Linked DNA regions of Homo sapiens. The protein of the gene in region 1 purifies or fractionates together with the protein of each later gene. This does not show direct contact. Each region holds a gene or a part of one and is shown on either strand. Other genes may lie near its edges.

Region 1 (3,500 bases):
CACTGAAAGTACAATCTGCTCTTTGAATAATTCAAATCAGAACAGAAAATCCTTTCAAGATATCATTCTTATCAGGCAGGGAAAGTTCTTCATGTTCTAAGTGAATTACTCTGGCTCTTGCCTTGAGACCCATGAAAGTCATTTGGGGTTGACAATGGTATCTATTTAAACCAAGTGATTGTCTTTTGGAGGGAATTGGCATCTTTTCTTTAGGAATGAGAAGTGGAATGGTTGCTTAGAAAAAAAGAGATAGATGAACTCCACAGAAAGATCAAGAGTCTTTTCTTCAAAATATTTTTAAGTGAGGAAGATCAGGGTGTTGGTATTGCGGGGAGGGAGGAGAGTGGGCAGAGAGAAAGATAAAAAAGAAACCTTTAATCCAATGGTGTGCAACCAACTGACTTCCAGAGGGGGGAATATCACATGGCTTTTCAACTCATTTATAAAGATATCATGGAAACTGTCTGATTTCTTCATGAGCAGCTCTTAGAAAACAAACAAAAATAAAACAAACACCAAATATGAACAACAGAAAAAAACAGCCAAAATAAAAGTAGGCCTGGAGTTAGGTTTCTAGGTCAAGCTGTCTTTGGCTACATCTAATTAAGGAGTCTCCACAGGGCCAGTGTCTATCTTGTTTACTATTGGTTTGATTTTTAAAAATAAAACACATTGCATTTGCAGGCTGTCTGTTAACCAGAAGTCCATGCAGTTTTTTTTTTTTCCATTTTTGCTGTTTTAAGTTTGTGCATAGCTCAATTGATGAATGCAATTAAGGCTTGAAGTCGGTGATGTGAATGACATAACTTCTATGATTCCTTACAATTCTCTTGGTTTCTGTGGTTCTGAGATGATTGCTAATGAGAATAAGCCAGATACACCACTGAAACCGTCACCCATTCAACTTTGAGATTTCTAAATTGGATGTAGTTTAAGGCACATGGTGTGGTAAATCTATTTAACAGACTCTAAGACCTGTTCAAGTTGTGTGCGATTCAAATGTTTTATTCTTTATTCAACAAATTTCTTGAGCACCTGCTATGTACTAAGATGTATTCCAGGTGCTCAGGATATAGCAATGAACAAACCATCCCGTTCCCAAGAGGCTTACATCTCAGTTGGTGGGAGGCAGCCAATATAAATAAACAAGTAAGTATTATAGTATTAGAGGTAGTAAAAGCTATGGAGAAAAAGAAAACTGGTTAAAGGGGGAACAGAAAATAACAAGTGGAGAAATTAGATCCCTTGTGCATTGCCGGTGGGAATGTAAAATGGTGAAGCTGCTGTGGAAAACAGCATGGCAGTTACTAAAAAAAATTAAACATAAAATTACTATATGTCCCAGCAATTCCACTTCAAGGTATATACTTTAAAAAATTGAAAGTAGGGACGTGAGCAGATATTTGTACACCTGTGTCAGTAGAAGCATTATCACAGTAGCCAAAAGGTAGAAACAACACAAGTCTACTGATGAATGAACAGATAAAATGTGAAATATACATACAATGGAATATTATTCAGCCTTAAAAAGGGAATTCTGACACATGCTACAATGTGGATGAACCTTGAAAACATGCTAAGTGAAACAAGCCAGAAATAAAAGGACACATATTTTATGATTTTTCTTATAGAGGCATCTAGAGTAGTCAGATCCCTGCAGACAGAAAGTAGAATGGGGATTGCTGGGGGAGATAGAAGACAGGAAGGGGGAGTTAGTGTTTATTGAGGATAGAGTTTCAGTTTGGAAAGATGAAAAAGTTCTGGAAATGGATGGTGGTGATGTCACACAACAGTGTGAATGTACTTAGTGCCACTGAGTTATAACATTTCAAAGTGGTATATTTTATGTTATGTATATTTTACAGTAATTTTAAAAAGCAACAAAACATGATGAGGGGTATTAAGGGAGTACTCAGGTGGGGATTAGATCTTTACTACATGACATCTCAGCACAGATCTGAAGGAGGCAAACGAGTTGACCCTGTAGCTGTCAGGGAAAAAGTGTGTTCCAAATGTCAGAGCAGCAAGTACAGAGGCCCTGAGATAGGAGTGTTTGTGACATGTTGGAGGAAGGAGAAGAAGGCCAGGGGAGAGTGCTAGGAGTTCAGGAGGGAGAGGGAGTCAAGGTCCAGACCTGTAGGGACCAGATTTTGCAGGTCAACAGTGGTTTATCTGAGGACTTGTAAACTCTCACGGAATTCTCAGTGTGGTTTTCAACATCACAAAACTACATTGTCCTTTCTGAAGAGACTCTGGTAAGGTTGGCAGGATCACATACCAGATGGGAACTCGATAGGGGGTAAAACCCAGATTTCTGGACTGTCTGGTTAATGACAGGACTTACCTGGAGTTGTAATTCACTTCAGTAGAAAAGGAAAGTTTGACAAATAGGTGAACGTACAGTTGACTTGGAGAGCAAATTGTAAGAACATAATGATAATCCTGGAGTTTCAACACAAACCTATGTCTTACCGCCACCCTGCGTTGTATCCAGTGTCGTTTTAAGAGATATTTACAAGGAGGACTAATATTCTGCTCTCCAGCATCCTTGAGGAATTAGAAGCTTCACATCAGTGATTCTCCTTAATAAGTGAAGTGGACCCCTGCACATGTGCAAACTTAAAGCAAACCTCAAATTTTGTTACTTATTACATAAGATATACATATTCATGTAGCACACACCTTGGACTCGGCTACTCAGGGGACGGAGGCAGGAGAATTACTTGAGCCCGGGGGTTTGAGGCTGTAATATACTATGATTGCATCTGTGATAGCTACTGTACTCCAGCAAGACCCCATCTCTGTTAAAAAAATTTTTTTAAGGAGAAAAAGATAGCATATTCATTGTAGTGCAACATTAGGAAATAAAGAGGAGCAATGAAACAAAACAAAACAATTCAACTATTAGAGATTAGGGTTTCAGGCTTTTCCTCTAAGTATGCATATGTAAAATTTACGTATATATTTAAATTTCATAAAAAGGGACTAACACAGTATCTCTCATTTGGTAAATTACCTTTTGTACATCTTGAACATCTTTTTAATAAACAGACATCTGTGTCTCATTTTTCTAAATGTGCCTACCCCTTTGATGGCCTTTCATTTTTATTGAGTCTAGGTTTATACTTCCCTGATATATATACATATATAAATAGATATTTGTAAAAAATACATAATATAATAATTTTACACATACACGTATTTAACAGTTTGAATTAGGATCCAAATAAGGTAAATACATTACAAATGGTTGATGTTCACTAATCTCTGTATTTCCTCTACAGATCTTTTTTCCATGCATTTTTTTTGTTGTTATCGAAGAAACTGGGTGATACACGTCTCCACAGTTTAGACTTTGCTGACTGCATCAGTGCAATGTGGTTTAACATGTTTCTGTATCCCCTTGGGGTACCATAATTTGGTAGTTAGATGTAGAGGCTTCATCAAAGTTAGGTTCTTTTCTTTTTTAAATTGAGAAGGGGTCTCACTATGTTGCCTCG
Region 2 (2,177 bases), about 140 Mb from region 1:
AATCTTTGTCACAAGATTTAGCTATGGAGAAGAACTGCAGTCCTTTGTGGGAGCTGTCATTGTTGGTACATACAATGTCGTGGTTGTGATTGTGCTTACCAAACTGCTGGTGGCAATGCTTCATAAAAGCTTTCAGTTGATAGCAGTAAGTTCATTCTTTTAAAAACTTTATATTCTCCTCAGACCATACTAAGTGCATACAATAGATAAGATAGCCAAAGATTATAAGATTATAAGAATTGAAAAATAGTATTTTTAAATTAAATATAGATTTTTAAAATGTAAGTAATGTATAATAATTGCAAATGTTGAACAAAATTTTTCTGCAAGGTGTGGAAACATCCCCCATATTTGTGTGTGTATTAATATTCTAGTTTGCTTTTTAATTTGCCTTTTATATAGAATCATGAAGACAAAGAATGGAAGTTTGCTCGAGCAAAATTATGGCTTAGCTACTTTGATGACAAATGTACGTTACCTCCACCTTTCAACATCATTCCCTCACCAAAGACTATCTGCTATATGATTAGTAGCCTCAGTAAGTGGATTTGCTCTCATACATCAAAAGGCAAGGTCAAACGGCAAAACAGTTTAAAGGTAAGAAATTAGAAGCTTGAATGGCAACATAAAAGTTTTAACAATTCCTAATCTCAGATATTTCTTAAAGCGTAAGTATGCAGGTTCCCTAAGGGCTGTGACTGTCTGACTTTTTTTCACTGCTATATACCCTAATGTACGGCATCGCATCCAACATAAAGTAAGGATTCAATAAATACTATTGAGAGTGAGAGGGCTGGGTGCGGTGGCTCACGCTTGTAATCCCAGCACTTTGGGAGGCTGAGGCAAGCACATCATCACTTGAGGTCAGGAGTTTGAGACCAGCCTGGTGAAACCCCATCTCTACTAAAAACACAAAAACTAGCTGAGTGTGGTGGCACATGCCTGTAGTCCCAGCTACTCAGGAGGCTGAGGCAGGAGAATTGCTTGAACCCAGGAGGTGGAGGTTGCAGTGAGCCAGGATCATGCTACTGCACTCCAGCTTGGGTGACAGAGCGAGACTCCACCTCAGAACAAACAAACAAACAAATATATATATACACACACACACACACACACACACACACACACACACACACATATAATTATTAAGAATGGGAGATAGTACTGAGATTTTTTTTTTTACTTTTCAGATTCCTCCAATATATAAAATTTCATCTCATAGTTTTAAAACATGGGAAATATTCAAAATACCCATTCTGTCACTGTAGCTAAAGAATGACTACTAGAATCAGCTCATATTTTTCTGGTTCTTCTTGAAAGTTATTCAATACATCAATAATTCAATATATGTTACTATAAACCAGGGGTTGGGACATTTTTTCTGTAAAGGTCCAGATAGTAAATACTTTACACTTTTCAGGCTGAGACAAAATCAGAGATATTGTAAGCAGTGATACAGTAAGAGAGAAAACAAATTTTCACAAAACTTTTATTGATAAAAGTCAAAATATAACAATAACAGTAATAACTTTTTAAATATAGGTCTACTAGTGAAAAGAATGGAGTTCCTTTTGGGAGGGGATAAAATTTCACTTAACTAGAGTTTAAAATTAGTGTTATTATCAATTGATGATAAATGTTCATCTGTAAAATCTATTCTTAGCTCACAGGCTGTAAAGTCAGGATATGGACCATATTTGGCTTGTGGGTTGTAGTTTGCCAATCCCTGCTATAAACTAAGGATTCCTAAGACTAATTTTTTTCAATCAAGATAAGCATAAAATTAAATTCATTAAACAAATATGCAGGCTATATTTGTTTTAAACAAGTGTTGAATATTATACCATGTAGTAGAAAAACTATAGTCTAATAAAGCATTTAAAGATGTGTTTGTGTCTGTGAATATATTTTTGAACTCTACCTCATTTAAATATCGTTTCTGCATATCCTTAGTATCATATTGTTGTTTTGAAGGAATGGAGGAATTTGAAACAGAAGAGAGATGAAAACTATCAAAAAGTGATGTGCTGCCTAGTGCATCGTTACTTGACTTCCATGAGACAGAAGATGCAAAGTACAGATCAGGCAACTGTGGAAAATCTAAACGAACTGCGCCAAGATCTGTCAAAATTCCGAAATGAAATAAGGGATTTACTTGGCTTTCGGACTTCTAAATA
Region 3 (3,500 bases), on another chromosome or scaffold:
TTTGCCATGTTGCCCAGTCTGGTCTCAAACTCCTGGACTTAAGTGATCCACCCACCTCAGCCTCCCAAATTGCTGGGATTACAGGTGTGAGCTACCACACCCAGCTTCAGCTATCTTTTTTATTAACTTTATTGAATTGTAAACAGAGAACACTTTAATTCTAAACAACTCTCTCAAGAGAGTAAGTCTAGGCCAGGCGCGGTGGCTCACATCTATAATCCCAGCACTTTGGGAGGCTGAGGCTGATGGCTCACCTGAGGTCAGGAGTTCGAGACCAGCCTGGCCAACATGGTGAAACCTCGTCTCTACTAAAAATACAAAAGTAGCCGCAAGTGGTGGCACATGCCTGTAGTCCCAGCTACTCAGGTGGCTGAGATGAGACAGGAGAATTGCTCGAACCCAGGAGGTGGTAGCTGCAGTGAGCCAAGATCGCGCCACTGCACTCCAGCCAGGGTGAGACAAAGAGAGACTCTCTCAAAAAAAAAGAGAGTAAGTCTAAAGACTTACTCTTTTCCAACATTTTAGATGTCATTTTTTAAGCTTCATACATTAAACATTATTACTGCTTTATATGGCAACATTTACCCTGGATTCATATTTGCCAATTTATTTATTCCCTATTCCTTCTTGCTTTCCTTCTAGGATAATGCTTATTCCTAAAGTACATGCTTTTAAAATTCCATTGGTAAATAACCTCTCTCAGATTTGGTTCATCTGAAAATATTTTCACTTTGCCCTTATTCTTTAAGGAAGGTTTTGATGATAGTTACTTGATACTGGCTGTAACTGTTGCTATTCAAAGACCTGCTACTTGCTGTTCTTCTGAAGGTACTGTGTTTTCTCCCTGCTTACCTCTCTGTATTTGGTATTTTCTACCTGTAGCTTATTCTGTTTGTTATACATTATAAATTTCCTGTCATGATGGGCTGACCACCAATTCTAAATCAATTTCAGTTACCATCTCTTCAGATTATTGCAATTCCTCCATTCTTTCCTACTGGGATTGCAATGGGCATGTTTGACTTTCTCAGTGTCTTCAACATCTCAAGCTCTCATATGTTCCATCCCCTTGCTCCTCTGTGTGAAATTCTGTTATTTCTTCAGATTCATCTTTCATTAACTCTTTTATAGCTGTTGTTTAACATTGTTTTTCAAATCTTTCTGGTTATTTTTGATAGCCTTTTGTTGCTCGCTATTATAATTCCATTTTAAAAAATATCTTTGAACATTTTATATCTAATTATTTTACATTTGTATCTAGAAATTCTAATGCTGATTTCCTTAGGGATCTAATTTTTATTGTCTCTGCTTTGGTGTAGTTTAATTATGTGTTCTTTGCTTGTTCAATTGACAGCAATCCCAAAGACGTAACTAAACTGGAGTGCTTTTTCCAGAGAGGATCTGTTTATTTCTCCTGAGACAATGACAACACCCACCTCTGTGTATATTTTACTGCTTTTAAGGGTTCCCGTTCAATCCTGATCTCTGACTCAGATCTCCCACTAGAGCACTGATATGGCCATCTGCCCTCAGGGCAACCCAGCTTAGAGTGTTTAAAATTCTCTATAAGCACAACAGTACATTAATCAGAAGGGCCCATTAGAGGATCTAGTTTTCCCTACTTCTAAAAGTGGAAGTTCAAACCTGTGTTTCAATTTTACATACACTCTTATATAATGTACCCTCCCTTAGAGTGCAAAGTATCAGTACTATCCTTTATCATCAGTTTAGGAGTTATATGTAGTATTACTACCTTAACATTAAAAACAATAACATTAAACTGCCTGTAATTAATTATAAAAGCTTAGAGTATTCAGTTAAGGTAAACGATACCTAAAATGTTCTCCACAAAGCTAAAGGGAACAAGATTATTTCTTAGTTTATTAAAAGGAAAAAAGAAAGTGTGATTCGAAACCCAAGGAACTGAAAAATAAGGTCAGATGCCTCAAATATGAGGAAACTGCCAGAGAATAAGCTGGATCCCTGCACTGACACCAAGGGAGTAACTGGCTAAACCACAGGCAGCTGTGACACAGCTGTGACGGCCCAGTCCCCGAAGGGACCAGAGAGTGCTGTGAAGGAGCTAAGTGCTAGCTTCAGGGAAAGCCCAGCCAAGCCAGGCTGTGGTCACTCCCGAACACTAAGGCTAGCCCTGGCAACAGCTCTGTGGGAGGGTCAATTGTCAACAGTCACAGTGAACAGGGGCACCCATATTACTGTGCTCCATGCCTGTGGTGGGACAGCCTGATGGCAGGATTGCCAACTATTACATCCTCCTGCAGGCATATTCCCATAGGTAATAGGAAAGTGAATGCTTTCTTGAATTTTGGACTAAGTCCTGTCATTTCACTTTACAGTTAAATTGTCTAGATCCAGACACCTAAACAGCATAAAATCAGGGATGAAAACAGAGGCATTCAGACCTGAGAGACTTGTGTCAGAAAGGTCAAGCCTAGAGAAGCTGCTAAGTGAAAACGGAAGCTGAAGAAAACAGGAGGTGGAGGAGGATGTGGGCTCCCAGGAGGAGAGGTGAGCCTAGGAGGTGTTGCCCTAAGGCAGAGCCAGGCTTTGCTTCTCAGATGCCACACAGCACTTGGCCCCACTGAAGGGCCTGTCAGCTTCTGTGGGGCAGGTATCCCAAGGACAAGGACCCAGCAGGGTTGTTATTGTGTCTCCACAGCCCTGCAAAGGGCTTAGCTCAGATTAGAGGTGCAGTGGGGACCTTTCAAACCAAGACAGAACCAGCAGCCTTGCCACCAAGGTACACAGAGGTATGACTAATAAGTCTATCAATGTTCCCCTGTAAATGCAATCTATCCTCAAAACAGAGTTACCAAATGAATTAGGGCTCTAAATATGAACCCGGGAAAACTTAATAACCAAACAGTAGGCAGTAATTAGGTGATAAGATCCAGGCATACGCTGCTTAAAAAGAAGCCCCATTCAAACATTAGAATGGACACTGCAGGTGGCTCTTGTCAGGAATGACCTGCATGAACTGGGCTCACCTTTTCATTATAGTTGATGGCAATCACATCCCCGGTGGTCAGACAGGCAAAGTTCCTAAGTGCGTTTTCTAATCTGCAGACACATTCTGTCAAGGCAACATGGCAAGATGGATACCTTAATCTGAAACAAGTTTCCATGTTAGATGATTACTGGTAGGTAGAGACTGTACCATGATGGTACTTGAAACACGAAGCTTTTAATACAATAAAGTACTACTTGGCAATAAAGAAGGATGGAACTCCTAATATGCAATAATATGGATGAAATGCCAAGCTGGGGTAACAAATGCCAAGCTGGGGGAAGGGGAAATAACCAACCACAAAAGGGCAGTGAGATTCCATCCACATGGAACCCTGAGAAAGACAGATCTATGAGGATGGGAGGTAGCTGAGAGGTTTCTGGGCCAGGGGATCAGGTGGGGACTGACAGGAAAGGACCTTTTGGGGACATGGAAATGTTCTGATTACATGGGTGTATACATTTTCAAACTG
Region 4 (3,500 bases), on another chromosome or scaffold:
CTGTAGTCCCAGCTACTCGGGAGGCTGAGGCAGGAGAATGGCGTGAACTCAGGAGGCGAAGCTTGCAGTGAGTCGAGATAGTGCCACTGCACTCCAGCCTGGGTGACAGAGTGAGACTCCATCTCAAAAAAAAAAAAAAAAAAAGATTGCTTCTGGTGACGGAAAAATGAATATTGTGTGTTTTCTGCTCTCAAATAAATCATAGTATTCAGACTGTCATTTGATGTCTTTATCAATGTTATCAGAGGAAAGGGGAAACTTTGAGGGGAAGTGTTTTGGGGAAACTATTGGAGTTACTTTTCAGATGATTCTGGATCTTTCTTAATTTTATGGACTATTGGAATTCCAGAATTAAAAGCTACCTTGGGATGATCCAGTATAACCTTGCACCTGATAGTAGTGTTTTCTTATACCATTTCTGCCACGTGGTTACCCAGTAGCTACTTGTACATGCTTAGTAATATGCCAGCCATTTCCATTACAGGTTTAGTACCCCTTATCCGAAATGCTTGGGACCAGAAGTATTTTAAATTTTGGATTTGTAAAGATTCTGGAATATTTGCATAGACATAATGAGATATCTCAGGGATGGGACCCAGGTCTAAATATAAAATTTATTTATGTTCTTCCTTGTTGGTATAGTGGTTAGTTTTTTTTTTTTAAGGTATTTTATTTATGTCCCATATACACCTATAGCCTGAAGGTAACTTTATAAAATATTTTAAATAATTTTGTGCATGAAACAAAGTTTACCTTAAGTGCTTATGTGTGGAATTTTCCACTTGTGTCATAATGTGGGCTCTCAAAAAGTTTCAGATTTTGGAGCATTTTGGATTTCAAATTTTCAGATCAGAAATGCTCAACCTGTATTAGACACTGGAAGCCTTAGAAAATTCTCCTTACTGTAAGCCCCAGTTTACTACCTAATAACTACCACCTAGTTATATCTTCTGTGCAACAAATATGGTCACTGCACATGGGTGCCCACCTGAGGAGGGCAGGGGCTGAAACCCAGCTTCATTCTGCATGTCAAACCATGCACCTGCAGGACTGTAGAAACGGCTGGTGCCGTTTTCTAATTGGCACAGAGCTGCTGTATGGACTAGCTGGAGGTCTAACAGCAAAGGAAGTATTGATATATTCCCTTCCAAATCACAGGCTTTACACAATACAACTAGGAGAAGAAAGCCAAACTAAAATTCAAATGTACTAAATTTTTTTCCTATCTCTGGGTGACTTTGGGCAAATCATTGAATCTTTCAACCTCAGATTTATTATAAGTAAAATAAAGTAACACCTCTCTTAACCTACCTTAATGGGTCCAAAAGCTCATGTTGACAAAACGGTTCTCTGACTCACTGTAGGGTCAGAATTACTGGCTGTGACTGCACATAGGAGAATCATTTCTAATTTTTATAACATTTTGCTTCACAGGGAGGCTGAGAAGACAAAACTCCTTATAGCTGCACAGAAACAAAAGGTTGTGGAAAAAGAAGCTGAGACAGAGAGGAAAAAGGCAGTTATAGGTACTTGGATTTCTCTGAAATGATTGTCTCTAAGTACATTTGTTTGTCCTGTTCTTTGTCAGTCTCATTTTGGGTATCATGGGACTCAGTAAGATTGCATCATAGGTAGTGGGGAATTCTGGAATCTCCACTGTACATTCAGATGTTCTAAAGCCTTTAAAAGTAGGTGAGACCAGTACTTAATGATGTGCTGTGGCTGTCCATCATGTTGTTAGATGCTACTGTTGTCTCTTTCAAGAACAGGGAGAATGGATAGGGTTTATAGGCAGCTTGAGTCTGTGGATAGCATTTTCATTTGTACAGATTAAGAATAGGGAAGTTTTTTGACCAAAGTTTCAGATTGTAGTATGCATCCTTGTTGTTGACATGCACTTAGTTTTACCTGGATAGGTAGTGCCGTTTATGAAAGCATGGCAGGATTGTTTACAGTTCATTTCAGATTACAGTGGCTTCCCTTATACTCCAGGTCACTGTGTATTAGATTGCCCTCTTTGGCCCTCGGTTGATGCTGAAAGTTTAATACATCTTTAATTAAATAATTCAATTATAGAGGAATGTACAGAGAACAATATAATGAAAGCTTAAGATTTTGCCTTATTCCCTTCAGATCTTTTTTTTTTTTTTTAAGAAAAAAATTAAATATCTGTTTGAAGCCTCCTTTGTATGTTCACTGGTCCTACTCTTTGACTTTTCTTCTCAGATTAACTTCTATTCTGAAGTTGATGTATATCCTTTCTGTCCATATTTTTATACTTTTACTGTAAGTGTGTAAGAGTTTATAAAATTGTTTTACCTGTTTGAAACTACAAAAATGTTACCAAACTCTTATTTTACAACTTGCCTTATTTTCACTAACATTGAGTTTTATTCATATTGATACATGTAGATCTAGGGATTTTTTCTTTTTTTGGCATTTTATCCTTATTCTCTGTGAGATGGTAGATCGTTTATGTTTAGCTGCTACATTTTTCGTTCTATGAGCGGGCCTAGTTTTATTGTAATGAATTACCAATGAGGAGTTAGGTAGTTTCTAGTTTTTCCTTATTACAAACACTGCCACAATAACATTCTTATCCAGTGCCTCCTGGATACAGTGTACATGTGCAGGTTTCCATAGAGTAGCATTACTCAGTGTATGGTGTGGGCCAGTGCCCTATCACCAGCTTTTTGTTTCTGAGCCTCAATGAGATGAGTATAGAAATTGAGAATGAGTGTTTAGAAGTTTTTATAGCATTTTAATACAGCAGTTTTATGTCTGTTGAATCAAAAATAAAAAATCAGAGCTTATATATTTATGTTTTTGTTTTTTAATTTCTTTTTTCTAGTACTGTAATTTGTTTTTGTTATAGTTTACAATTTATTGGTTCCTCATAAATTGAAATACACACACAAAAAGGTAAGGTATTTTTCCACAGGTGGTTTGAGAAGCACTGCTCTAGAATAGCTATCTCAAAGTAGAATTGATGGGTCATAGGGTAGCATGTCTTCACATTCAACATATTGACAAATTGCTCTCTCAAGTACTTCTTTGATTTTACCATCTCTTCAACAATATTTGATATCCAGTTTCTATGCTGCCATATTTGAATTCCCATTTCCACACATCCTTCTTGGTCCTTGGAGTTATCAGACTTAAAACTTTATGTCTGTTTAATGGAAGACATGGTATCACATAATTTCAATTTGAATTTCCCTGATTGTTAGTAAAGTTGAATATTGCTTATTGGTCATTCAAGTTTCCTTTTTTGTTGTTGTTATATGAATTGCCTGTTAATGTCCTTAGCCCATTATTTGATTGCTTTTTTGAGTTGATTTGTAAGAGTCCTTTCTGTCTCCTGGATACTGATCCTTTTTCAGATTTATGCATTTCCAACATCTTTCAATTTGTGGCTTGTCTTTGAACTTTACAATGTCTTCGATATACATATATGTGTAGTTTTTGTGTAGACAAATTCATTAGTCTTTTCCTTTATG

Evidence for each region.
Region 2: the proteins of ITPR1 (region 1) and TRPC1 purify together in Homo sapiens (affinity purification with western blotting, with the first as the bait; one study listed by BioGRID). This does not show direct contact.
Region 3: the proteins of ITPR1 (region 1) and UFD1 purify together in Homo sapiens (affinity purification with western blotting, with the first as the bait; one study listed by BioGRID). This does not show direct contact.
Region 4: the proteins of ITPR1 (region 1) and ERLIN1 purify together in Homo sapiens (affinity purification with western blotting, with the first as the bait; 2 studies listed by BioGRID). This does not show direct contact.

The regions. Positions count from the first base shown.
Region 1 is NC_000003.12:4,496,348-4,499,847, forward strand, and holds part of ITPR1 (inositol 1,4,5-trisphosphate-gated calcium channel ITPR1), read left to right. Parts: intron 1-3,500. UniProt on the Homo sapiens protein: Inositol 1,4,5-trisphosphate-gated calcium channel that, upon inositol 1,4,5-trisphosphate binding, mediates calcium release from the endoplasmic reticulum (ER).
Region 2 is NC_000003.12:142,804,034-142,806,210, forward strand, and holds part of TRPC1 (short transient receptor potential channel 1), read left to right. Parts: coding exon 1-145; intron 146-402; coding exon 403-597; intron 598-1,974; coding exon 1,975-2,177. UniProt on the Homo sapiens protein: Forms a receptor-activated non-selective calcium permeant cation channel. Forms a heteromeric ion channel with TRPC4 or TRPC5 that has reduced calcium permeability compared to the homomeric TRPC4 or TRPC5 channel.
Region 3 is NC_000022.11:19,462,194-19,465,693, forward strand, and holds part of UFD1 (ubiquitin recognition factor in ER-associated degradation protein 1), read right to left. Parts: intron 3,082-3,500; coding exon 3,009-3,081; intron 1-3,008. UniProt on the Homo sapiens protein: Essential component of the ubiquitin-dependent proteolytic pathway which degrades ubiquitin fusion proteins.
Region 4 is NC_000010.11:100,162,030-100,165,529, reverse strand, and holds part of ERLIN1 (erlin-1), read left to right. Parts: intron 1-1,434; coding exon 1,435-1,526; intron 1,527-3,500. UniProt on the Homo sapiens protein: Component of the ERLIN1/ERLIN2 complex which mediates the endoplasmic reticulum-associated degradation (ERAD) of inositol 1,4,5-trisphosphate receptors (IP3Rs).